Homo sapiens: one gene and its partners. The protein of the gene in region 4 purifies or fractionates together with the protein of the main gene of each other region. This does not show direct contact. Each region holds a gene or a part of one and is shown on either strand. Other genes may lie near its edges.

What was found.
Region 1: the proteins of KRR1 (region 4) and MAK16 purify together in Homo sapiens (affinity purification with mass spectrometry; 2 studies listed by BioGRID and IntAct, with this or other methods). This does not show direct contact.
Region 2: the proteins of KRR1 (region 4) and RRP1B purify together in Homo sapiens (affinity purification with mass spectrometry; 2 studies listed by BioGRID and IntAct, with this or other methods). This does not show direct contact.
Region 3: the proteins of KRR1 (region 4) and KRI1 purify together in Homo sapiens (affinity purification with mass spectrometry; 3 studies listed by BioGRID and IntAct, with this or other methods). This does not show direct contact.
Region 5: the proteins of KRR1 (region 4) and YBX2 purify together in Homo sapiens (co-immunoprecipitation; 2 studies listed by BioGRID and IntAct, with this or other methods). This does not show direct contact.
Region 6: the proteins of KRR1 (region 4) and EPB41L5 purify together in Homo sapiens (co-immunoprecipitation; 2 studies listed by BioGRID and IntAct, with this or other methods). This does not show direct contact.
Region 7: the proteins of KRR1 (region 4) and ZC3H8 purify together in Homo sapiens (co-immunoprecipitation; 2 studies listed by BioGRID and IntAct, with this or other methods). This does not show direct contact.

Annotation. Positions count from the first base shown.
Region 1 is NC_000008.11:33,495,182-33,498,471, reverse strand, and holds part of MAK16 (protein MAK16 homolog), read right to left. Parts: intron 2,931-3,290; coding exon 2,856-2,930; intron 1,848-2,855; coding exon 1,731-1,847; intron 1,241-1,730; coding exon 1,175-1,240; intron 41-1,174; coding exon 1-40.
Region 2 is NC_000021.9:43,666,060-43,669,559, reverse strand, and holds part of RRP1B (ribosomal RNA processing protein 1 homolog B), read right to left. Parts: intron 1-3,500. UniProt on the Homo sapiens protein: Positively regulates DNA damage-induced apoptosis by acting as a transcriptional coactivator of proapoptotic target genes of the transcriptional activator E2F1.
Region 3 is NC_000019.10:10,559,511-10,563,010, forward strand, and holds part of KRI1 (protein KRI1 homolog), read right to left. Parts: intron 3,328-3,500; coding exon 3,219-3,327; intron 2,336-3,218; coding exon 2,281-2,335; intron 2,207-2,280; coding exon 2,157-2,206; intron 1,756-2,156; coding exon 1,659-1,755; intron 1,571-1,658; coding exon 1,493-1,570; intron 939-1,492; coding exon 802-938; intron 427-801; coding exon 300-426; intron 199-299; coding exon 103-198; intron 20-102; coding exon 1-19.
Region 4 is NC_000012.12:75,494,610-75,498,109, forward strand, and holds part of KRR1 (KRR1 small subunit processome component homolog), read right to left. Parts: 3' UTR 1,054-3,500; coding exon of another isoform or gene 968-1,053; 3' UTR 1-967. Other genes in the region: GLIPR1 (glioma pathogenesis-related protein 1 precursor), read left to right, coding at 968-1,053. UniProt on the Homo sapiens protein: Part of the small subunit (SSU) processome, first precursor of the small eukaryotic ribosomal subunit.
Region 5 is NC_000017.11:7,287,763-7,291,639, forward strand, and holds the end of YBX2 (Y-box-binding protein 2), read right to left. Parts: intron 3,815-3,877; coding exon of another isoform or gene 3,770-3,814; intron 3,421-3,769; coding exon 3,331-3,420; intron 2,774-3,330; coding exon 2,489-2,773; intron 2,310-2,488; coding exon 2,206-2,309; intron 1,964-2,205; coding exon 1,768-1,963; intron 1,077-1,767; coding exon 1,026-1,076; 3' UTR 987-1,025; intron 882-986; 3' UTR 501-881; downstream 1-500. UniProt on the Homo sapiens protein: Major constituent of messenger ribonucleoprotein particles (mRNPs). Involved in the regulation of the stability and/or translation of germ cell mRNAs. Binds to Y-box consensus promoter element.
Region 6 is NC_000002.12:120,075,577-120,079,076, forward strand, and holds part of EPB41L5 (band 4.1-like protein 5), read left to right. Parts: intron 1-124; coding exon 125-177; intron 178-1,394; coding exon 1,395-1,515; intron 1,516-1,652; coding exon 1,653-1,740; intron 1,741-2,916; coding exon 2,917-3,005; intron 3,006-3,500. UniProt on the Homo sapiens protein: Plays a role in the formation and organization of tight junctions during the establishment of polarity in epithelial cells.
Region 7 is NC_000002.12:112,214,036-112,217,042, forward strand, and holds part of ZC3H8 (zinc finger CCCH domain-containing protein 8), read right to left. Parts: intron 2,434-3,007; 3' UTR 1-2,433.

The DNA of each region.
Region 1 (3,290 bases), on a different chromosome or scaffold from region 4:
CCTGATCTTCATCACTGCTGGCATCCAGTTTATCCATATCCTATTACGGGGAGAGAAAAGATAAAGGAAGAGGGAAAACACTAGATTTCTCCAAACTCCCTTCCTTGTCCCCTCAATCTAGAACAGACTAGGGCATTGATTTGTCTATGTCTGTGTTCAGAAATTGTCCCTTTCTTTAATTTTTTTTTTTTTTTTTTTTTGAGACGGGGTCTTGCTCTGTTGCCCAAGCAGGAGTGCAGTGGCATAGTCATGGCTCACTGCAGCCTCAAACTGCTGTAGTCAACAATCCTCCCACCTCAGCTTCCTGAGTAGCTGGGACTACAGGCAACCGCCACCACATCCAGCTGAATTTTAATTTTTTTTTTTTTTTTTTTTGGAGACGGAGTCTCGCTCTGTTGCCCAGGCTGGAGTGTAGTGGTGCGCTCTCAGCTCACTGCAACCTCCATCTCCTAGGTTCAAGCGATTCTTCTGCCTCAGCCTCCCAAGTAGCAGGGATTACAGGCATGCACCACCATACCTAGCTAATTTTTGTATTTTTAGTAGACACGGGGTTTTGCTATGTTGGCCAGGCTGGTCTCGAACTCCTGACCTCATGTGATCCGCCCACCTCGGCCTCCCAAAGTGCTAGGATTATAGGCGTGAGCCACCACGCCTGGTCATGATTTTTAAAAAATTTTAGGCCAGGCCCTGTGACTCATGCCTCTAATCTTAGCACTTTGGGAGACTGAGGCAGGCGGATTACCAGAGGTCTGGAGTTCTAGACCAGCCTGGCCAACATGGTGAAACCCCGTGTCTACTAAAAATACAAAAAATTAGCCGGGTGGAGTGGCACATGCCTGTAATTCCAGCTACTTGGGAGGCTGAAGGAGGAGAATCGCTTGAACCCGGGAGGCTGAGGCTGCGATGAGCCCAGATTGCACTATGGCACTCTAGCCTGAGCTACAGAGCGAAACTTCATCTAAAAAAAAAAATTTTTTTTTTTATTAGAGATGAGGTCTCACTATGTTCTTCAGGCTGGTCTCGAACTCCTGAGCTCAAACAATCCTCCCATTTTGGCCTCCCAAAGTGCTGCAATTATAGGAGTGAACCACGGTGCCTGGCCACCTCCCTGTTTTTGTTTTTTTTTTTTTTTTGCTGCAGGCCAAAGGACAATCTTTTTACCCATAAAGCTCACCTCAAAATCACTTATGTCACTCTCATCTACCTCACCATCTTCGACAAATTCTCTTTTCCCCACATCCTATAAATAAAACATAACTGTTAGGTTCAGAATACATAATGAAGATTCAGATTAGACATCTAAGTAAGTACAAAATAACATAATGAGAACCACAGTCTTTTCACTAGGCAATGAAAATTTAGTTCTTTCTAAATTTAATGCTTCTGAATTTTAAAAATTTTAGGGCTACCAGATCATTCTTATTCTTGATTTAAATTATTAGCAATAAAACATCCTCATTATGGTTAAAAACTACATATAGACAGGAAAGGCTTTATAATTTGTCACCTTGCAGGAACAATTTTAGAAGACCAATAAATTAAGACTAAAATTGTTAATGGTTTGTTGGTTAGCCTGAAGAACAGAGCAACCAGTGCTAAACCAAAATTAATCACATGAAAGAAAAAAGAAGACATATCATTTTTGGTTAGCGGACTGAAGATGATATTCTGTTTCTCAGTTTTATACAAATGGTATCTAGTAGGTTTGGCAAAACAAAAACAAGACTTACTTCCTCATCATCATCATCATCATCTTTTTCCTCAGTATCTGAAGAGTCACTCTCTGCCTCCTGTTGTTCCAGGGCTTTGTCGAAGGCATGAATGGGGAAGTTGTAGATGTCGCCATACTGAAGAACATAAACACAGATTGGCTTTAACTACATTTGGATATTACACTTGAAGTTCCACTTTCTGTGGAGAATATTACTTTTTCCTCAGTGATTAAATCAGAATACTTAATTTGATGAGTAATATTTTTAAGTGTAGAGCCAGCAGTGTCTTAAAAAAGCATGTTCTTTTGAACATTTAAATCATCTGCAGTTAGTATCAAATAGGTAACTTCTATGGAGTTACATTTTAAAATAATTTAAAATGTAATAGTCTACAAAACCCATGCATTGGGACAAATGTCATTTTGCTGACAAGGGGAAATAATAAGGAAAAAGCATACTTTAGTCATGTTGTCTGTATAAACAACACTAATTTTTAAAAAGAGAATAAAAACTTATTTCAAAGAGCCTTAAAAGACTAGGGTAATATGCAGGAGAAGCAAAACCCCATGGCTTTTATACAGAAATCTGGAATTGTTGTCTTGGGGAATGGAGCTGAGAATAATGGCAAAAAGGGAAAGGTCTCTTATAGTGAATGGAGTATCAAGGGTAACCAAAGCATTTTATGTGCTTGCATTAATTAAAGCAAGGAAGCCAGGCCGATATGGATTTATTTTATTCCAGGGATAAAATTCGAGTGGAGATCTTCATATCATGTTAAAAAACATTTCCCAGCCAGGCACAGTGGCTCACGAGGTCAGGAGTTCAAGACCAGCCTGGCCAAGATGGTGAAACCCTGTCTCTACTAAAAATACAAAAATTAGCTGGGTGCAGTGGTGGTGCCTGTAATCCCAACTACTCAGGAGGCTGAGGCAGGAGAATTGCTTGAACTTGGGAGGCAGAGGTTGCAGTGAGCCGAGATTGCACCACTGCACTCTAACCTGGGCAACAAAGCAAGACTCCATCTCAAAAAAAAAAAAAAAAAAAAAAAAAAAAAAAAAAAAAAAAAAAAAAAAATTCCCAATATGTCTTAGCAACATACTACCACTTAAAATTTCAGTACCCCAAAGCTAATGGCTTTCTCACCGTATCTTGTTTCAGTCTCTCCAGTAATTCCTTCTCAATGGCATTGTCCAGCTGAGCAGCTATTAATGCCTTTTCCTATAAGGGGGAAAGAGCAAATCTGTTTAATTCATCAGTGCTCATTACTCATCTTATAAAAATGGAAGAAACTACCAAGTTGTTTATAAGAAAGACAATGTAATTATTTCCCCTCCTTGCTAATACTGGCTTTTGCCTTTCCAACGAGATAGATTTCTTCTTCTTTCTCTTGTAAACTTCCTTGGGAACATTTCCATTTTGAAATTCCTATGGTTTTGTAAACAACATTCTAAATTAAATTCTAACACAGGCTTTGATAGATACAAAGCATGTAAGTCTATATACATTTAAGTGTCTCAGAAATAATCTAGCAACTCTGGAGCCAGACTTTGTAAAAGCTGAGAAAAGAGAACAGAAATC
Region 2 (3,500 bases), on a different chromosome or scaffold from region 4:
GCAGCCATCCTGCACACTGACATTTTCGCTGGTCTTGTGAAGTAAAACTGCAAATCTTACAAGAGATGCGGGGGACCTGCTCAAGTCATATGAAGCCCCAGCAACGGGCAGCCCCACTTCCGAGGAACAGAAAACCAGCCAGGCTGAGGACACAGGAGCTCCAAACAGTACATCTGAAAGTCAAAGGCCTAGGAAAGGGCCTGGGGACACTGACGCTGCTTTGGAATATTTTTGCAAAAATTACCTTTTAAGGATCCTAGTATAAGGTCAAAAGTGGCTGCCTCCCAGTCACCCTCCCTGTAACGGTGATCATTTACTGTGGCATCACCAGGTTGGCTTTGTCAATCACCCTCCCTGCAACGGTGATCATTTACTGTGGCATCACCAGGTTGGCTTTGTCAATCACCCTCCCTGCAACGGTGATCATTTACTGTGGCATCACCAGGTTGGCTTTGTCAATCACCCTCCCTGTAACGGTGATCATTTACTGCAGCATCACCAGGGTTGGCTTTGTTCTGACTCTAGCTACTCAGGGCTCTACCTCTGCCTTCATGATCTATGATTGAGTGACCAGTCTCGTTCAGCCTTAAATCTCCTGAGTAGACCCCAGGTGTCATAAAGTATTTGCTGACTGACATAAAGAATCACAAAATGATAAGGTAGGTGTACAGTCTTGGAGTTTCCGAGCCTATGGATACATGAAATTAGAACACAAACAGAATCCTCAAGTCTTGATGTGTGTTACAAATGGTCTTTATTAGGATTTTACTAGGAGATCCTAGGAGAAATCTTTTGGAGCAACAAAGTGCTATAAACTAGATGAATGCAAACAAATATTTAGAATCAATGTGATCTTAATACTCCAAAAGATGCTTAAAAAGTGACAAAAAGGGCCAGACGCGGTGGCTCATGCCTGTAATCTCAGCACTTTGGGAGGCTGAGGTGGGCGGATCACGGGGTCAGACGATCAAGACCATCCTCACTAACACAGTGAAACCCCGTCTCTACTAAAAATACAAAAAAAATTAGCCGGGTATGGTGGCGGGCGCCTATAGTCCCAGCTACTCCAGAGGCTGAGGCAGTAGAATGGTGTGAACCCAGGAGGTGGAGTTTGCACTTTGCAGTGAGCTGAGATTGCGCCACTGCACTCCAGCCTGGGCGACAGAGCGAGAGTCCGTCTCTTAAAAAAAAAAAAAAAAGTGACAAAAAGACCTTTTAATGGACCAAAGTTTGTTTAGTGTATTCAGAGTGCGTTAACCTTAATTTACAGGTATTGATTTCCACTTTGCTAAGGGTCTTTCTCCCATCAACAATTTTATAATGGTACATTTTGATTCTTTTTTTTTTTTTTGAGATAGAGTCTTGCTCTGTTGCCCAGGCTGGAGTGCAGTGGCACAATCTAGGCTCACTGCAACCTCTGCCTCCTGGGTTCAAGCGATTCTCCTGCCTCAGCCTCAAGAGTAGCTGGGATTATAGGCGCGTGCCACCACGCCTGGCTAATTTTTTGTATTTTTAGTGGAGACAAGGTTTCACCATGTTGGCCAGGCTGGTCCGGAACTCCTGACCTCAGGTGATCTGCTGGCCTCGGCCTCCCAAAGTGCTGGGAATACTGGCATGAGCCACCACACCCGGCCTGCATTTTGATTCTTTTATGATAGTTTTCCATGTAAAACCAGGATATCAGGAACTAACATAAAACTAGTTTATTAAAGTATATTCCCTTTCACAGTTGGAGAGAAGATGTACCAACTGGTTCTCTTGCCCTCTTGTTATGAACAAGTCATGCCTGGGGATCCTCACGTGGATAATGTAAGTATGGTATGAGTAATAAACCCCACTAGAGCTGAGCCAACTGCGGTCATGATTGCAGTAACTTTTTTTTTCTTGGCCACAGTGACCTGCACTTATATTTAATCATGTTCAAAGACCACATATATCCCCAGTGAATTGAAGGCTTTGGGCAAGGATCATAAATAGCTGCTAAAACATTAGATGAAAAGATATCACCCAGGCGTGGCGGCTCACTTGAGCTCAGGAGTTTGAGACCAGCCTGGGCAACACAGCAAAACCCAATCTCTACAACATTGTACTCCATGGAGCTTGGGCGACAGAGCAAGACCCTGTCTTAAACACACACACACACACACCAACAACAAAACCAAAAAATTGGCAGAGCATGGTGGCATGTGCCTGTAGTCCCAAGTACTCAGGTGGCTGAAGTGGGAGGATGACCTGAGCCCAGGAATTTGAGGCTGCAGTAAGCTATAATCGTGCCACTGCACTCCAACCTGGGCAACAGAGCAACTCTGTCTCTCAAACAAACAAACAAACAAACAAACAAACGATATTAAGAAACTTGAAAGTGGATGTGTCAGACCATCAACACCCAAACCCACCGACCGATCATTAACATGCACAGGCAATAATCACGCATCAGATGCCAGAGGTGATGCCAACAGGAAGAACGCTGCACCAACCTATGAAGTATTCTTACAAAAGTAAGTGTCAAAAAAAAAAACACCCAACTGTGTCAAATCTTAACTATTAATATTAGTTTATAGGAAATACAGGGGACAGAGGAACATGGTAAGTGAGACAACAGGATGCAGTCAACAAACCCCAAATATGTGAAACTCTACAAGGCATATGACCTATGTCCCCAACAAATAAACTGTACAGAAAAAGATGGGTAAGAACTGTTAGATTTTAAGAGCGTCTTGGCAGACATATTAACCAAATGCAGTGGGTGGTCCTCATTTGGATTGCTCATAAAAAACATTTGATGAGAAAAACTAAACAGATTGGATATTTCATGCTATTAAGGATTTTTTTTTTTTTTTTTTGGAGACAGTTTCACTCTGTCGCCCAGGCTGGAGTGCAGTGGTGCAATCTCGGCTCACTGCAACCTCTGCTGCCCAGGTTCAAGCGATTCTCCTGCCTCAGCCTCCCACGTAGCTGGGATTACACGCACCTGCCACCGCACCCAGCTAAGTTTTGTAGTTTTTAATAGAGACGGGGTTTCGCCATGTTGGCCAGGATGGTCTCAGTCTCTTGACCACATGATCCCCCCACCTTGGCCTCCCATAGTGCTGGGATTACAGGCGTGAGCCACCAGGCCTGGCAGCCATGCTAGTTTTAAGGGGGAAAGTGAAGCACAACTTTGTGCAGGAGCTCAACTGCTGGTGCCAGCACCTTGTTTTTCTCCACTGCAACCTCTGCTGCCCCAAAGATTGTCTCCATTCTCAGACAGGCTCCACCTGTGTTACAAGGTGGCTGGGAGCAGGTACAAACTGTGTGTTCTCTTCAAGTCCAGTAAGGAGAGAGCTAGAAACTCCTAAGGACTGAGCAAGAAGATTTTTACCTGCAGAGGGTCACTTGGCTTTTCTTGAACCTGTCCTGTGGCCAAGGGAATTCTGCTGAATTGGCAGAAGCCGCCGCCTCTCCACGTGGGGTAAGCCCCACCCAGACCACAGAGTCCCTCCACACCCTGCTTGAAGGTG
Region 3 (3,500 bases), on a different chromosome or scaffold from region 4:
CCTGCTTCTTTGCTTTCTCCTGCAGGCCCAGGCAGAGAGGGGGAGGGCATGGGCTTTCCTCCAGGGCTGGGGGGTCCTCCCCAGCTCACCCCCCACACTCACCCTCTTCTTTCGCTCCCGAGTCTCTTCCCTCTTCTCCTTTCTGCGCTCATCCTTACGGCGCACGGAGGACGCGATGCTGCGTGGGTAGGTCTTGACCTAGGCGCAATCAGAAAAGCCCACAAGGGCCGCAGAGATGATGTGGGGTTCCCTGGGCCTGAACCCTGGGGGCTGAGTCCTCCCCAGCCCCAGCCACACACCGATGCTGAGTCCGGCTCCTCGAAACGGAAATTGTACTTCTGTTCAAAGTCCTCCTGTTTCTTCAGAAACAGCTCCCCTTCGTCTGAGGAGTCGTCCACAGCCAGCTGGACTGGGGGACCGTGGACCCTGAGGGGCAAGATGTGGTGATGCCAGGGGGCCAGCCAAGTGAGGTCGAGCCCCCCTTTCCTGCACGCCTGGGTACGAAGCGTATGAACTCATTTAATCCTCACAAGAACCCTACAAGGTGCACGCTGCTATTGTCCTCATTTTACAGATGGGGAAACTGAGGCATGAAAGTCTTGAAGCCGAACCAGGATTTGAGGCAGTGCCACCTGGCTCCAGAGCCTATACTCTGTGGCTCTGCCTTACAGAAGACTAACTCTGCCACCATCTGTGAAAAAAATACACACATGGTGCCCTCTGCCTCCTGGCCAGTGCCGCCTGGGAATACTTCATGAAGCGCACCCAAAATCTAGGTCCTGGGGAGATGCAGTGGCTCACCCCTCCTCTTCCTCCATTTCCTCTTCATCTTCCTCCTCCTCTTCCTCCTCCTCATAGCGTTTGTTGAGGATGTAATCCCGCAGGAACCGCTCCCCTTCATCCAACTCAGGGTCGTTCCAGTATTCCTTGAGATGCGTCTGGGGGTGACAGGAGACAGGACTCTGGTCAATGGAGGACAGGGAAGGAGGGCAGGCATGCTCACCACATGGACCTCACAGCCAGCCTCTGGAGTAGGTGACATTAGCCCCATTTTGGTTTCTTATTTTTATTTCGAGACAGGGTCTTACTCTGCCATCCAGGTGACAGTACAGTCGTGTGATCATAGCTCACTGCAGACCCAACCTCCCGGGCTCACAAGATCCTCCCACCTTAGCCTCCCAAGTATTTGAGACTACAGGTGCATGCCACCATGCCTGGCTAATTTTTTCATTTTTTTGTAGAGCCATTTTGCTATGTTGCCCAGGCCAGTCTCAAACTCCTGGCCTCAAGCAATCCTCCTGCCTTGACCACCCAAAGCACTGGGATTACAGGTGTGAACCACGGCACCCAGCCTATCCCCATTTAAAGAGATGTAGGAGCTGAGGCCCAGAGATGTACATATCCCATCTTCAGAGGGTTACTTTCTGTAAATAGGTTGGATGGACGCGGAACACGCGGTCTACTCCATCAGCGACCATGCGTGAGAACTCACCAGTTCCTTCAGGGAATCTGGGTTCCGAATCTCTTTCTGTCCCTTCAGCCACTCGATGTAGTCGGCCTCCTCCTGGGCCTGGGGGAAAGCTAGCACTGAGCATCCGCAGATGCCCAGCCACCCGCCACCCTGTCCCCCAGCAGTCCAGTCAGGCCCCAGTACCCACCTTCTCCTGCCTGGTTTTGGCACGTTTCTGCAGCAAACTGGAGCCGCCCTCCCCAGCGCCGTCCTCGTCCTCACTGTCCTCCACAAATGCCCGGAAGCTGCCCACGAGAGAAAACAAGCCTCAGGACAGGCAGGCTGGCCCCTGTCTGCTGCCCCAGTATTTATTTTATTTTGTAGAGCTGGGGTCTCACTATGTTGCCCAGGCTGATCTTGAACTCCTGGGCTCAAGTGATCCTCCCTCCTCTGCCCACCAAAGCCCTGAGATTACAGGCATGAGCCACCTCACCTGGCTGGCTGCCCCAAGATTAACCCCATTTACTAAGCCCTGAGCTCTCCTCTCAACAAGCTCAGAGCAGTGCTGTGATGTTATTAACCCCGTTTAACTGATGAGGAAACTGAAGCACATAGAAAGTGACAGAGCTCAATTTGAACCCGTGCCTATCCAACCCCCGAGCCTCAACTTTCCTCCATTGGGCCATTCCCGCCCACCCAGCCTCACCTTTCCTTGAGCTGTTTCTGTTCCTCCACATAACTTTGCGACGATGTCTCCTGCAGAGAGGGCCATAGGTCTCAGGCCAGCCCCAGGCCCCTCAGCCCCCCGACCCAGCCTTCACCCCACCCACCTGGAGTCTGTGATTGGAAGTCTCCCCGTCTGAGTTCTCCTCATCAACATATTTGCTGTAAAGGAAAAGTGGGGTCTTCAGAATATATCTTCCAGGGCCCGCCTGTCCCCATGCCCATGCGGAGCAGCTATTCCAAGCAACAGCTGGCGGGGGTCATCGGAGGGCTATGGAATCACTGAGACTCCTGCTCTCAGGGCTATCTGCGATTCTGGTGAGTTTCCAGCGTTTTTTTTTTTTTTTTCTTTTCCAATCATGGGTGACAGCATTTCTTTTTTGGAGCCAGGGTCTCGCTCTATCCCTCAGGCTGGAGGGCAGTGGCATGATCTCGGAAAACTGCAACCTCCACCTCCCAGATTCAAGCGATTCTCCTGCCTCAGCCTCCCCACGTAGCTGGGACTACAGGCGCCCACCACCACATCTGGCTAATTTTTGTATTTTTAGTAGAGACGGGGTTTCACCATGTTGGCCAGGGTGGTCTCAAACTCTTGACCTCAGGTGATCTGCCCGCCTCAGCCTCCCAAGGTGCTGGTATTACAGGCATGAGCCACCATGCCCGGCCTTTTTTCTTTTTGAGACAGGGTCTTATTCTGTTGCCCAGGCTGGAGTGCAGTGGCCTGATCATAGCTCACTGCAGCCTCCATCTCCTGGCTCAATCCTCCTGCCTCAGCCTCCTGAGTAGCTGGGACTACAGGTACACATCATCATGCCCAGCTAATTTTTAATTTTTTTGTAGAGGCGGGGTATGTTGCCCAGCCTGGTCTCAAACTTCTGTCCTCAAGCGATCCTATTGCCTCAGCCTACCAAAGTGCTGGGATTATGGGCATGAGCCACCATGCCCGGCCCAGGCTGCCAGCTTTTTTCCCTCTCCTGCCCCTAAGACCCCCATAGACCTGACAGGGCTGGGAACCAGGGGGTGGGGATGTAGGCCTTCTCCATACCCTGCCTTCTCCAAGATAACCTTCCTCTCGTAGTCCTTCAGGTACATGGGCCGCACTTTCTTCTGCTTCTCCAAGGCTTCTGGGTCCTCCTCACTGTCTGATGACGATGCTGTTAACCCACCAAAGACACCTGCCATCACCCACAACCCCCTTCTTTGCCGTGGCAGAGAATCCCACAGGGCAGGGCCAGGGTTAGACAGAGGATTCAAATCCCAAATCCACCAATTCCCAGCTGTCCAAGAGTATTGTGCTTGTCACCATCTGGTGGGGTTGGGGTCATTC
Region 4 (3,500 bases):
AACAAACTATGTTGAGAAAGAGCCCATAGGCCTCACCAGACTGCCAAAGGGTACGATTACACAAAAAAGTTTAGAACTTTTTCCAAAAGCAGAGTTCCAAAAAAAATTAGTGCAATGGCAGGTTCATTGAGATAAATGTGCCCCCTCTCCCCATTACTACTATGAGGATATTTATGGGGATATAAAATGCTTGGATATTATTTCACTTTCTAGTCTGTGACCTTGGTCAATTACTTATACTCTGTGACTCAGCCTCTAGCTATATAATGGGTATAAATAGACAACAGTAACTTCCTCATAGGGTTTTTGTGAAGATTATTTCATTCAAGGTTGTTTAGAACAAAGACAAGCACATGGTAGTGCTCACTAATTAGCAGCTATTATTCATATCACATCTTGTATGTGAAAACAATTTGTACTTTAGAAATTCCCCCATACCATTATTTATTATTTTTTTGGAAGGCACCAGCCAAATGGCTCCTATCCAGTGAAAATTATGGAGGGCTGACCAACTGAGAATATTGAATGTGGGTCACCATAGCTTTTCTAAGATGGACAGTTTTTTAAATGGCAGTAATCATATAGGCCAGAGGGTAGGTAAAGAGAGGGAGCACAGCCCTGGAGTTAAATCCAGGTTTCCTCTGACTCTGAAGTGTATAAATTGTGATTAAAGGTATCTCTTACATCTTTTGTCTCATCTGTAAAACAAGAATAACTTCCTCTCAGAGCTGTCACAATTAAATGGGATGCAGATTAAAACAGGTGCATAGACACAGGTACATAGAATGAACTATGCAAATATTAGCAGCCTTCCATTTCTGCCTTCCTGTCTTCACTTCTATTACCAACTCTCTGGACCTTTGTACTTCACTCCACTATTCTTCTGGATTTAGTTAAGGATTCATAGTAAATTGCAATTTTAAAAAACCGAAAAACTTCTAATGGACATCCTTCTTCTGCTTTACAGAGGGAATTACCCAACTTGGCCATATAAGAGAGGAGCCACCTGCAGTGCCTGCCCCAATAATGACAAGTGTTTGGACAATCTCTGTGGTGAGTAAAAGGAACAATACACCAATAGAATAACATAATAGTAACATGTAACTTTCTACAGAATTAACAATGAAACCATGTTTTATCTTAACGGCTATCTTCAAGGAAACTGGCATCAAGTAGCAATTAAACCAATGGCTTACTGTTCTAGGAATACATTTAAGAGAAATTTAAATGTGAAAATCACGTTCTTTTTATTTAGTTCTAATTGGTCAAACAACAACAACAAAAAAAACTGTCAGAAACTGTAGACTAAGATTCCTAAGATTTGCTTATTTCAGCAAGATCAAAAATAAGTATAACAGGTCATCCAAACAAACAGAATTCTGTTTTCGTTTTTTTTTTTGTTTTTTTTTTTTGAGACAGAGTCTTGCTCTGTCACCCATGCTAGAGTGCAGTGGTGTGATCTCAGCTCACTGCAACCTCCATCTCACGGGTTCAGGCGATCCTCCTGCCTCAGCCTCCCAAGTAGCTGAGATTACCATGCCACCATGCCCAGCCTGGCCAACATGGCAAAAACCCCCTCTACTAAAAATACAAAAACTAGCTGGGTGTGGTGGTGGACGCCCGTAACCCCAGCTACTCAGGAGGCTGAGGCAGGACAATCACTTGAGCCCAGGAGGTGGAGGTTGCAGTGAGCAGAGATTGTACCACTGCACTCCAGCCTGGGTGACACAGTGAGGGTCTATCTCCAAAAAATGAAAATAAAATAAAGCTGCAACATGGCACTTTTTATTAGCCAGACAGCATTTAATGAAGAAGTGTAGAAGCTGCAAGCAGTTAAATTTCCAAGGATGTTTTACTAAACATCCAAGCAAAATTCTGCTTTGTGATTTTGAAATATTAGTAAGTGACCAAGAGTTTATTTCTTGTTCTTGTTCTAGACACAAACCCTTCCATCCCAGTATGTTTTTTTACCATGGTGTGAAGGGGAAACTTCAATTAAGCTGTGCAAAGCCTGTGGTACTTTCGTGTCCATATTTGTAACAAACTGAACTCAGAGCAGCCGGGCTAGAGTAGGGTGCTTAGAATAGAGGAAGGACAGAGTCGGCCAAGTTCCACTGCACGAAATTTAGTTTGGAAAAAAGTGTTCCATTGCTCATGTTTTATAAGGTCCCTTGCAGGCCTAAAATTATAAAATTCTATATATTAAACTGCTTGCTCTCCTCCTTCCCATTTAATGTTGAATACTTATCTTTACATACAGTCGTACTTTTGCAAAGTTTTCTGAGCCATTTTTCTCCCAGTCCAATCATTCTTTATTTCACTTATATCACTCTTGTGAAGAAAAGTAACATGTAGCCACAATGCAGATAATATCAAGGTATCAATGTATTCACTGAATTCTTCCTTTCACTCACTCTTCACTTCAGAACGTATATATTTCTTCCTTCCAAATTAACCAGTATACATAAGGGCTAAAACTATGGATTTCAGAACCAGTATGCCAAGTTTTGGTGCAATTTCCAGTTTGACCACTGTGACTTTGGGCAAGTTTCTGCTTCTATTTTTTTCAACGAAACAACCCAGTGAAAAAAATGTTTCCCTTTAAAAATCTAGGCAATTAGTAACACTACCACCACCACAATGACAAAAATACTTCTGGTTTTAGCTTTTGATCTTTGGTGATCTAACTTGAGATGCTCTTTAATCTTGGGGAATAACATTTAGAAGATTAAAGCTGTAGTCCAATAATGAAAACCCTTGGACTCTTGAGAAAACACATGCTAACTTGTATTTATAAGATGTGAAACTCATTACCCATTTACTTCAGATAAGTGCTCAACATCTTACAGATTGATCTTGTCACTAATTTCCTATTCTCAGAGCTAGATTTATGTAATTTGTTTTCATGTAAGTTTAGGCTTACTTGAAAGTATTCTACTCTTCGCACTAATACTGAATAAGTAAGATTTGTGACTAAAAAACTTAAGAATCACCATTTGACCTTTTATAAGGTCTGATGAAGGTAAAGGTTAGAGGATAAAAGCTTTTATTTAACAGATTCCTTCTCAGACAAATTATGGCAAGCACTGGAGCATAAATTCCTTCGTGGTATTCCTTCGTGGTCTCCTAGATACTGCTGGTAGTTCAATAAATACCCTTGGAGGCCAAATCAGGACTGTTTTACAAAATGTGCTGGGCATATTAGTGGTACATAAGATGATTTTAGCTAGTTCACAGATGTACATTTGTTTCAATAGTTGAATATTGAACATTTAAAAATATATATAAAAAAAAATAACTAGAACATCACACTCTTGATTTCATCGACATAACTGCCAAGAAAAGTGAGGGTAGCATATTTACAGTAATTCACCACAAAGCCCACTCACAGGTATGAAGACCAGGGATGCTCACCAGTACCCAGAGGACCAGATGATTGATGGGTTCTACCACGAGCATCTAATAGCGACTGCTGCAGAACTGGTGTGGAAAAGGTTTCT
Region 5 (3,877 bases), on a different chromosome or scaffold from region 4:
GAAGAAACCAAAGGTCGGTTGTACTAAATGTATATATATAGATACTTCTATAAAGTCACTGCTGAAGACAAGCATCCTATTGTGGAGGTACTTGAGGATGGGCTGAGACAGGGACCATAACTCTTCACCCCTCTTCCTCCCTCTGTCCTGCCTCAGCTCAAGGCCTCAGAATCTTCTGGATGCCATTGCTCATGCCCCTACTCACATTTCTACTCGTTGCTTTATTAATAGTAAATGCTCAATAAATTGTAGCTGCCAGTGCCGGGCATTGCTCTTGGCATTTGCAGAATACTCACTCTGTGAGGGAGGTGTCAGCCCATGTCACAGATGGGCAGTGAAACCCATGATAGGGGCACTCTTCACCAGGGACACAGCTGGAGACATGGCAGCAAGGATGCCAGGCCCTGCCCACGGCCCCACATCCCCTCCTCCCCACCTTCAACAGTGAGTTACTAGCGATTCTCCAAAACAGAAGAGATGGAGACCAAGACCACAGGAAAGCCTGTTTTTGTTTTTACTGGAGGCTCAGGTGGCACATGACAGATCATAAAATGGCTTCAGAGGTAGGGGGCCGGGGGAAAACAAAAATAAACTTGGGGTGGGGGCAAGAAAAGCAACCAGGAGGAGGTAAGAGCTGGCTGGTTCCTTCTCAGCCTGAGTTACGGGAGGGAGTTGCTGTCTCTGAACAGTAAGGATGGCTCCCTTCCTTCAACCCTTGATAAGGGGAGGGAAGAAAAAAGAAAAAGCAAAAGGCTGCTGCTTTGGTCCTCCTGAGTCTCAAGGAAAAGGTGAAAAGCTGGTGTTTTGATGTCATGAATTATGGGAAAGGGGGAGCAGGGTACTGGGTAGGGTACAGGTCATTTGGAAAAACTGGCAGATACCTGAGAGAGAAAAGGAAATGGACGGATTGTGAACAACAGCGACTTGTCATCGCCACCCAGTACCTCACCTTCCTGGCCACCCACCCAACTGCACCAGCCACTCACCAGATGGCAGCTCTGGGTGTCCTCTGAGTTGAGTTGGAATCACTCCAGGATGGTGGTGGTGGGGTCCCCACTGTTGACAGGGGCTGAGGTCTAAAGAACAGCGGTGGCCAATTGAGACTTGTTCTTTTTGTTTTTGAGACAGAGTCTCACTCCAGGTTGGATGGAGTACAGTGGCGTGATCTTGGCTCACTGCAAACTCCCCCTCCCAGTTCAAGTGATTCTCCTGCCTTAGCCTCCCAAGTAGCTGGGATTACAGGCATGTGCTACCACGCCTGGCTAATTTTTGTATCTTTAGTAGAGACGGGGTTTCTCCATGTTGGTCAGGCTGGTCTTGAACTCCTGACCCCAACTGATCTGCCTGCTTCTGCCTCCCAAAGTGCTGGGATTACAGGCATGAGACATCGCGCAGGGCTGAGACTTGTTCTTCAGGGCCCTGAACTTCAACCTTCTTTCACTTTTTCCCTTCCCATTAAAACCTCAATCACACCCCTCAGTTCACATCTACAAGCTGGTAGGATGGCTCCAGGCAGCAAGTGGGGGATGGGTTGGGGGGGGCATGGCCATCATGGGCAATCATGGGCTTGATTGCCTCTGTGGGGGCTTCCTGGTGGGAGGCGGCACCTGCCAGGGGGGGACCCAGCAGGCTGCATGGAAGAGGGTGGTGGCAGGGCCAGGGCAGGGGAGGGGAGGAGCCAAAGGATAGAGTAGGAAAGAAAAAGGAGCAGGTGGGGGAGGGAGCTGGTCTCAGCCTTTTCTTTCATCCCACATCTGAGGTCCTCACCTCAGGGGCTGCGGGCTGCCGGGGGCCAGGGGCCTGCTGGGGGCCAGGGGCCTGCTGCCGTCTCCGCTGGAAGTAGGGGCGGTTTCGTGGGCGCTGGGGCTCAGGCCGGGAACCATCAGCGGGACCTTGGCTGGGCTTGGTCTCACCATCCCCACCTTCTGTGGTAGGCTGCTGGCGTGGCCTGGGGCGGAAAGGCCTAAGGCAAGGAACAAGGCTCTGAGGGGACCAGGGAATACTCCCTCCCCAGGGCTCACCCAGCTGCCCCACCCCACCTCCAGGAGCCAGGCTTCCAGCCCATGAGCACTGCCTCCCCGCAAGGCACCTGTCTCGCCAGGAGCCCAGGCTCTGCCTAGAGCTTCACCCTTCCATCCTCCTGTCCCTTGCCCCAAGGATCCAACACTGGAAGGGGAAGACCAAGCCCCAGCAGGGGGGTCTTACCTTCGGTACCTGGGCCGGAATCTGGGCGGGGGGACTCGCTCATCTCCCTGCTGTTGGTGCCCCTCCAATGGGGCTGTCTCTTTGGGTTCTACCCTGTCAGTGCCCTGGGAACATGCAAAGGCCCCGGTGAGCTGTGGGGACAGCAGCTGCTCTGGAGCCAGATTATCCACAGCTCTGCCCAACCCTCAGTTCCTCCTTCTTTGGGGACCCATGGTCTCTATCCTAACTCCCACTCCTCTCCTGAACTTGGGGAACTGGCTCCCATATTCCAGCATCCCCTCACCTCTATAGGCTGCTGCTGGTTGGGAGGCCGGGGGCCTCGCACAAACCGCCGTCGGTAGAAGAAGGGTGGGGGGCACCATCGTCGGGGCCGTTGCCCAGAGTCTTCAGCCCGCTCCCCTTTACTGCCAGGTCCTGTCCCCGCCGAGGGGATCTCTGCCACCATGGGTGGTGGGGCAACTGAGGGAGGCCGGGGGATGAATCGGCGGGACTTACGTCGGTTGGGGGCATAACGGCTGCCCTTCACGGGTACTCCCCCAGGCCCAGTTACATTAGTGGCTTCTGCGCCCTGGGAAGGTGGTAAGGGAATAGTGAGAACCTGCTCCAACAGCCAATGTGCATTTCCCAACTTGCTTCCCCTTCTTTCAGGGGAAGACCCCTCTCCAGCTTTCCTTTAGCTCCTCTAACTTCTTTCTACCCTCCCTGGAGAGGCAGTGGAATGTGCTTGCACCCATTTGGGAAGGAGCAACATGTCCTTTTGAAATAATTGCTACTGCACCCTCCTGAGTATACGACTGGGTGGAGAAAGGCCTGGCAGCCAGCATCCACCTTTTTACTCCAGAGGCGGACTCGGGAAGTCTAGGACAGGGCCCCACGTGGAGAACGGATGTCGAAGTGCTTGGTGAACTAGAGAAGAAACCCAGACACTGCCGACCGATGACAGGGACATACTTAGGACATCCCTTAGCCCTAGCATTAAGGAAGAGGACATCAGGGTGAGAGAACACAGTCCCATTCCCGCAGAACGGGTCAGAGCTGGCCCCAGGAGGGTCTTAGCCTGTGATGACCTCCAGGCCACCCTCCCGTAAGCCTAGTCAACTCTATACCCCATAGCAGTCCCCAAACCTTCTCTCCTTCCACGACATCAAATTCCACAGTCTCCCCATCTCCAACGCTGCGCAGAAACTTCCTGGGGTTGTTTCTTTTAATAGCTGTCTGATTGGGGAAAAGGCCATGTGAAAAGTGAGACAGCAAGACAGGAGTCTCTGTCACCCCTGCTGGGGCCACCACCCAATTTCATTCTTTCAACATTTGACTTGGGGTCTAGAGCTGGAGGGTGGAGCAAGGAGGTGGTCAAAGTTTAGCAGGGGAAAAGTCCTGAACTCAGGGCCTCAGCAGATTGTGCAGTTACCACCATCCCCAGGATGCACTCCCCGCACCTCCCCTCCCGCCCCGCTTTACCCCTCAGGGATTTCAGAAAGGGAGGCAAGAAATATGAACTCCAAAGCAAAAGGCAGGGACAGCCTTCAGTCGCAAAGTGGGTAGAATGCACTGTGCTTCTTACCTCAGTCCCAGTGAGAGCTCTTTCCACCAAGCAGTGGTTCTCAAGCTGTAGCGTGCATCAGAATCACCTGGAGAGCTCGTTAAACCGATTGTGGAGCCCCAGCCCCAG
Region 6 (3,500 bases), on a different chromosome or scaffold from region 4:
TTTTGAAAATAAGTTTATAGTTGTAAAAAAGAAATGGTCAACATAAAACATGTATTATTTTCATTTGTCTTAAAATGAAGGTTATGAAATCAACTTGTCTAACAAACTTGTGTTTTGGTCTCAGATTAGACTGTCCCTTTGATACAGCAGTGCAATTGGCAGCTTATAATCTGCAAGGTAAGCAATTCTTATGTTGACTGTTAAGACTCAAGTATAATCTTTTTTGTGTGTGTTTTTAGTTAAAGAAGATTCTAATTATGTGCAAGAAAAGAAACAACACTGTTTTTGTATAAACTTGTATCAGGGTCCAACTCTGACTTTTACTTGTTTTAGAACATTGCCTTCTTTTTCTTCTCTTTCATGTAATTGCGCCCTTTCCACCTAAAGTGTTGAAACGTCATACTCTACCTGATAAGTCTGTAAATGCTAAGATTGGGCCTTCGGCTAACTTTTTCCTTAAAAGAAATGCAGTTATGTAGGAGTGAATTGTTGGTGAAGCCATATAGCTTAGCAGTCCTTTTGCTCCAAACCTACATTTTGTTCAGAAATAACCACAGATGAGTACATACATGTTTGTGCATTGTTCAGATTTTTCCCTGCTGCTTTCTCCCCCCGATTTTTTTTAGTTCCTTTCAGTTATTTCTTTAGGATTAATAATTTTAAAATTTTGGAAGACAGGGACTATATTTAGATTGGTATATGGGGTCATATTCAGTGTATATCAGTATATTCTTTTGTTTTGTTTTTTTTTGAGACAGGGTCTCACTCTTGTCCCCAGGCTAGAGGGCAGTTGCATGATTGTAGCTCTCTGAAGCCTTGAACTACTGGGCTCAAACGATCTTCCTGCCTGAGTAGCTGGGTCTACAGGCCATTAGGCCTGGCTAATTTTTGTACTTTTTTTTTTTTTTTTTTTTTTTTTTAGAGACGAGGTCTTGCTATGTTGCCTAGACTGGCCTGAAACCATCTTCCACCTCAGCCCTCCCAAAGTACTGTGACTATAAGCATGAACCACCACACCCAGCCTTAGTAATATTCTTAATAGATGCCAGTTAATTGTCTTTTAACGATTGCTAAATTTTTTCATTTATTCACTATAAGGTCAGAGGTATTTCTTTATGGAAGTCTAGAAAGCAGTTTTCAAAGGTTAAGTAAGCACTGAAGTGTGAATACATTAAGAGAAAGATATGTAATTAAAAATACACTACCAAAAATAAATATGAGATATATGTGTATGACTAATATGCCAGATTTACTTTTGGAGACTTGTCTGAGTATTATGAATTTTTGTAAGAAATTCCTAAGAATCTTTCTAATCTTAGCAGTTTTCATTAATGAAATGGTTTTTGAAGGATTTAGCAGGAAATACATATAACTTTTGAAACTTATGTTTATAGCTGAACTTGGTGACTATGATCTTGCTGAGCATAGTCCTGAACTTGTCTCAGAGTTCAGATTCGTGCCTATTCAGACTGAAGAGATGGAACTGGCTATTTTTGAGAAATGGAAGGAATACAGGTATCTGGCGTTTGACCATACTTTCTTTAAAATCACCACAACAGTTATTTCATATTCATTTTCTTCTGTTTCTATCCTTGGTATAGAATTTATTTTATATTTATTGTTACTTTAAAAATCATTGTTTTAAATTTCAGAGGTCAAACACCAGCACAGGCTGAAACCAATTATCTGAATAAAGCCAAATGGCTAGAAATGTATGGGGTTGATATGCATGTGGTCAAGGTAAGCATTGTGTTGTGATGCTTTTTTAAAAATTTATTCTTTGGAGGTTCGCAGTGACTGTGGAATTTTTCAGTATGAGGGAGGGCATGGAGTTTGCATAAGCTAGCACTGGGTACTTTGGATGTATGGTTAAAAAGTTTGAGATTAAATACCAAATGACTAGAATCTCACAGAAAGGTTCATTATAAGAAAGAAGAGAAGCAACCAACATCCCTAACAAGGTACTTGGTCCTTTTAAGCTGTTATTTTATTTTATTTTATTTTTTTGCTATAAAAAATTGTTTTAAGCTTTTGAGCCATTTGTTATCCTTTTTACTTCCTGTTATACGACTTACACTGAGTAGGCTCTGTTAAAATAATTCAGGATGCAAAGTTGAAGATTTATAGCTTAAAGACTTTGATAAACTTTAGAACAGCTTTGTAGTGATTTAAGTTATTTCTAGTTTAACTAGTAACATTTTTCCAGAAAGGCGGTTGTATTAGTTCATTCTCGCACTGCTATAAAGACATAAATTTATAAAGAGGTTCAATTGGCTCATGGTTTTGCAGGCTGTACAGGCTTCTCCCTCTCAGGAGGCCTCAGGAAACTTATAATCATTGGGCAACGTGAAGGGCAAACAGGCACATCTGTACATGGCTGGCAGGAGGGAGAGAGAGCAAAGAGGGAGGTGCTACACACTTTCAGACAACCAGATCTTGTGAGAACTCATTCACTATCATGAGAACAGCAAGGGGGAAGTCCGTCTCCATGATTCAGTCACCTCCCACCAGGCCCCTCCTCCAATACTGGGGATTACAATATGACACAAGATTTGGGTGTAGACATAGAGCCAAACCGTATCAGCAGTCTTTTCCAAAATACATGATTTAAGTGGTAAGTATAATATGGGAAGAATGTGGAAACAGCTTTGTTTGTAGTGGGAGTGTAACTACCCACTTTCAATGAAGATACACTTTAAAACTCTAGTGTTTCAATGACTAGAAATAAAAATATATGCATAAATTTTTCTGAGAATATTATTATGGATACTCTAATTGTTGAAAACATCTCATATATTAATATTAGCCTGTATATAATTAATACAATTCAATACAAAAATAAAATTTAAAAGTTGTGTCAATGTGAAACCTGTTTTGTACAAATAAAGCTAACACATTTTTCTCCCCTTAAATTAGGCTAGAGATGGGAATGACTATAGTTTGGGACTAACACCAACAGGAGTCCTTGTTTTTGAAGGAGATACCAAAATTGGCTTATTTTTTTGGTAAGCAAGAGTTATTGTCAAAGATACTTACTGTTGTTTTGGTTTTTAATGAGTAAATAAAGTTAATACATAAACAAGTTTGGAAATCAAATAGTTTTGAAAAACTTGTCAATGAAAGCAACTGTCTCCTGTCACACTATTACGCATCATTATTCCTACTCTCCAGAGGCAATTATTAAAACTCTTCTAGCTGTATTTCCCATTAGTTTCAAAGTATACCACAATCTATATCTTGATATAAATATTTATATTTTTATATGTATCAGATGTTCACATGGGCACTTTCTCCCTCCATGTAGTCATGTCATTGCTTTTAATATTTATTATTCCACAATCCCTTTACCCCCTATTGTGTAAGAGGAAGATACTAATATTTTTATCCCTTCTCTAAGCTGTGCTCCTTATACTGTTCCAGCTTTTATCGTTCATACTTTTAAATTACATTTATGTTTTACTTTTACATCAAGGATAGATTTTACTTGGATTTCTTGGCCA
Region 7 (3,007 bases), on a different chromosome or scaffold from region 4:
CCTGGGGTTCACACCATTCTCTTGCCTCAGCCTCCCGAGTAGCTGGGACTACAGGTGCCCGCCACCTCGCCCAGCTAATTTTTTGTAATTTTAGTAGAGATGGGGTTTCACCATGTTAGCCAGGATGGTCTCGATCTCCTGACCTCATGATCCGCCCACCTCGGCCTCCCAAAGTGCTGGGATTACAGGTGTGAGCCACCGCGCCCAGCTAAGAATTGTTTTTATGAAATTATTGAGAGATTTTGCCTCCTGCTTCCTTTCTGGTATTGAGAGGTAAGTAGTTGATCACTTTATCCCGTTTGCTTTGGCTTTAAAGACGGTCAAGGATAAATTCAATAGAGCCATGATAACCATGCTGGCCAAATAAATCTGTGCAGATTTTTCCCATACAACTTTCTGGCTTTATTTCTCCTGGTTTGAATTTTTTAGACTATGGTTTTATTATATATATATTATATATGCTTGGAGCTGCATCAAGGGTCAGTGAGATTTACTTCACAGGAGGAAACCAAGGGGAGCAGAGGGAAGTAGGAAGCCCGGCTTGGTATGGCTACAATGGCTAGGTGATAGAGTACTTTGGACGAATGGCTCTTGAGACGAATGGCTCTTGGTTCAGGGAACGGCACAGTGGGGGCGTGGCTGAAGCAGTATACTCGGAAATCTGCTCTGAGGAACCAGAGCAAACTGTACAGAGGAAAGGGGAGAATGGAGGCCAGTGATTGGCTGTGAGGTGCTGCCATAACCCAGGTAGGAGAGACCCACAGGCTAGCAGCTGCTTTGAGAACACAGGACACATTCATGAGAATCTCTGTCTCCTAACTTGATTCAACACAAATTAAGATATTTCACTTACACAGGTATGCTTGTTTCTTAAAACAATTAATTTGAAAAATAAGAGGTTTTTAACCTACTCTATTTGACTTCTGAGTCCCTCAAATCTCTGCGGTGTCTTTTAAGTTTACAAGTGAGATGGGTACTGCCTCAGAAATATAACAATTATTTTTTTCCTTATATATAAACTTTATATATAAAATCTATACTTTATAAGTATCAAACTATTATACATGAGGTAATATTAGGAAGTAAACTGCTAGACTGTAGTATAAGATTAACTACAAGTATTGACAAGGCTCATGAAAATTAAAAAATTAAGCATTCCTATTTATTCCCTTTCTATGCAATGAATTGCATTATCCACTGTATAAGGTTGTTATGAGACTTAAATAAGAAGTGCCTTGCCCACCTCCCGAGCCACAGCTGAGAAGCGAACCAATCAACCTGGGCAGACAGCAAAAGGGCACTGAGAGATGACTTGCTCTCCATTCCTCAGTTTCCTGCTTCTAAGGGCCTAGGATTTACCCTTGTTTCCTGCTTTCTTTCGTCTTGTCTGATAAACCTTTGCTTGGAGTATATGCAATTCCCTTTCTTGCTTTAGCAGGATTAGATAACAATGAAAATAACTTTGATTCCTATTTTCAAATAGGACTTTGCTAAGAAGTATCACTAGCTTTGGTGTACTCTGTATGTCCAGCAAGTTGGTAATACTATTACTTTTCCCAACAATAAAACAATATAATGACGAGTTTCCATTTCATGGTATTTGTCTAATAATAACCAATAATCAATATTACTATATAAAACTGCATATTTAGAATCTCATTATTATTTGTACTTGGAACATTAGTATTTGAATCTTGTGTTAATGATACCATCACACTCCTAAAGTTTGTAACTCACACAAGTGTATAATCTGACTACAGTTTATAAACCAATGAGAAAGATAAATATTCTTATATTTTAACAACAGAAAAGTTACGAACTCTAAATTTAGAAATGGTATAGTAAGAGATATTGTTTCACTTTATTTATAATAGTAAGAAACTGGAAACAAATGTCTAACAATAGGAAACTGGTTTAAAAAAATCATAGAACCATAATTTATTTTAAGCCCTAAAATGAAATTGTGAACCATTAAAAATATGTTGTAAAACTATTTAATGTCATAAAGAGAACTAACTCTGTTTTTATGGTCCATCTACCAATGTCTTCCGAGCAGTTCTCTCTCCTCAAACCTCCTCTACCTCTTTACTCACCCTCACTCAGCCTAACCTTGCTTCCGATTTTATTAAGGAAATCCAATCAATCAGAAGAGGTTTCTACAATTTACTATCACATTTACCCACCAGCCATCACCTCTGCCATATATGCTCCTCTCCTATTCCAATGGCTGGAATGTCTCAGGGAAGACCAAGCCCTTCACTTGTACATTAGATCCCAGCTCTCTGTCCCATCCATTATGGAAGCTGCACATCACCCCAGTCACACAAGAGGGCACTCTGAATGAGGAATCTTGTAAACTACTCCAAATCACCAGTCTTGAACAGTCTTGAACACGCATGGGCGTTAAAGTACTCTTTATCTGTACATTGCTACCTACAGAAGAAAACAGAGAACAAAAACACATCAGCTCATGAAAATTACCAGCAGAGCCGCCCTTACTCCCAGTTCTCATCTCCCAAAACAACAACAACAAAAAACATATAGCTGAAGAAAACAAGCAAAAATCCAAACAGAATTAAACACCCCTCTTTGGGAAAATTAAAGAACATTCTGAATTGAAATTCAAAAACTAAGATTAGAACTGAAGCAAAAAAAAAAAAAATACAAATAATGAGACAAGAGTTGACTAACCTCAGACATGGCAAACAAGAAAAAAATTATATTACAAATGAAGACTATATTACAAGAAAGAATAAATTTGAATGGAAACATGATAAACATTATCGGACAAAAGCAGAAAGAGAACAAAAAATGAGATGAAGAAAGAAAAATTTAATAGAAAACAAAGAAAACACATTATAGAGAAAGAAACACAGTAACAATAAAATGACAGAAACTAAACCAAACATTTGGTAATTTCAACAAATGTGAATGGTCTTAATCCACTTATCAAAAGAAAAAGATTTTTGGTTGAGCCCGCAGAGCAAAACCCAACTACATATGTTCC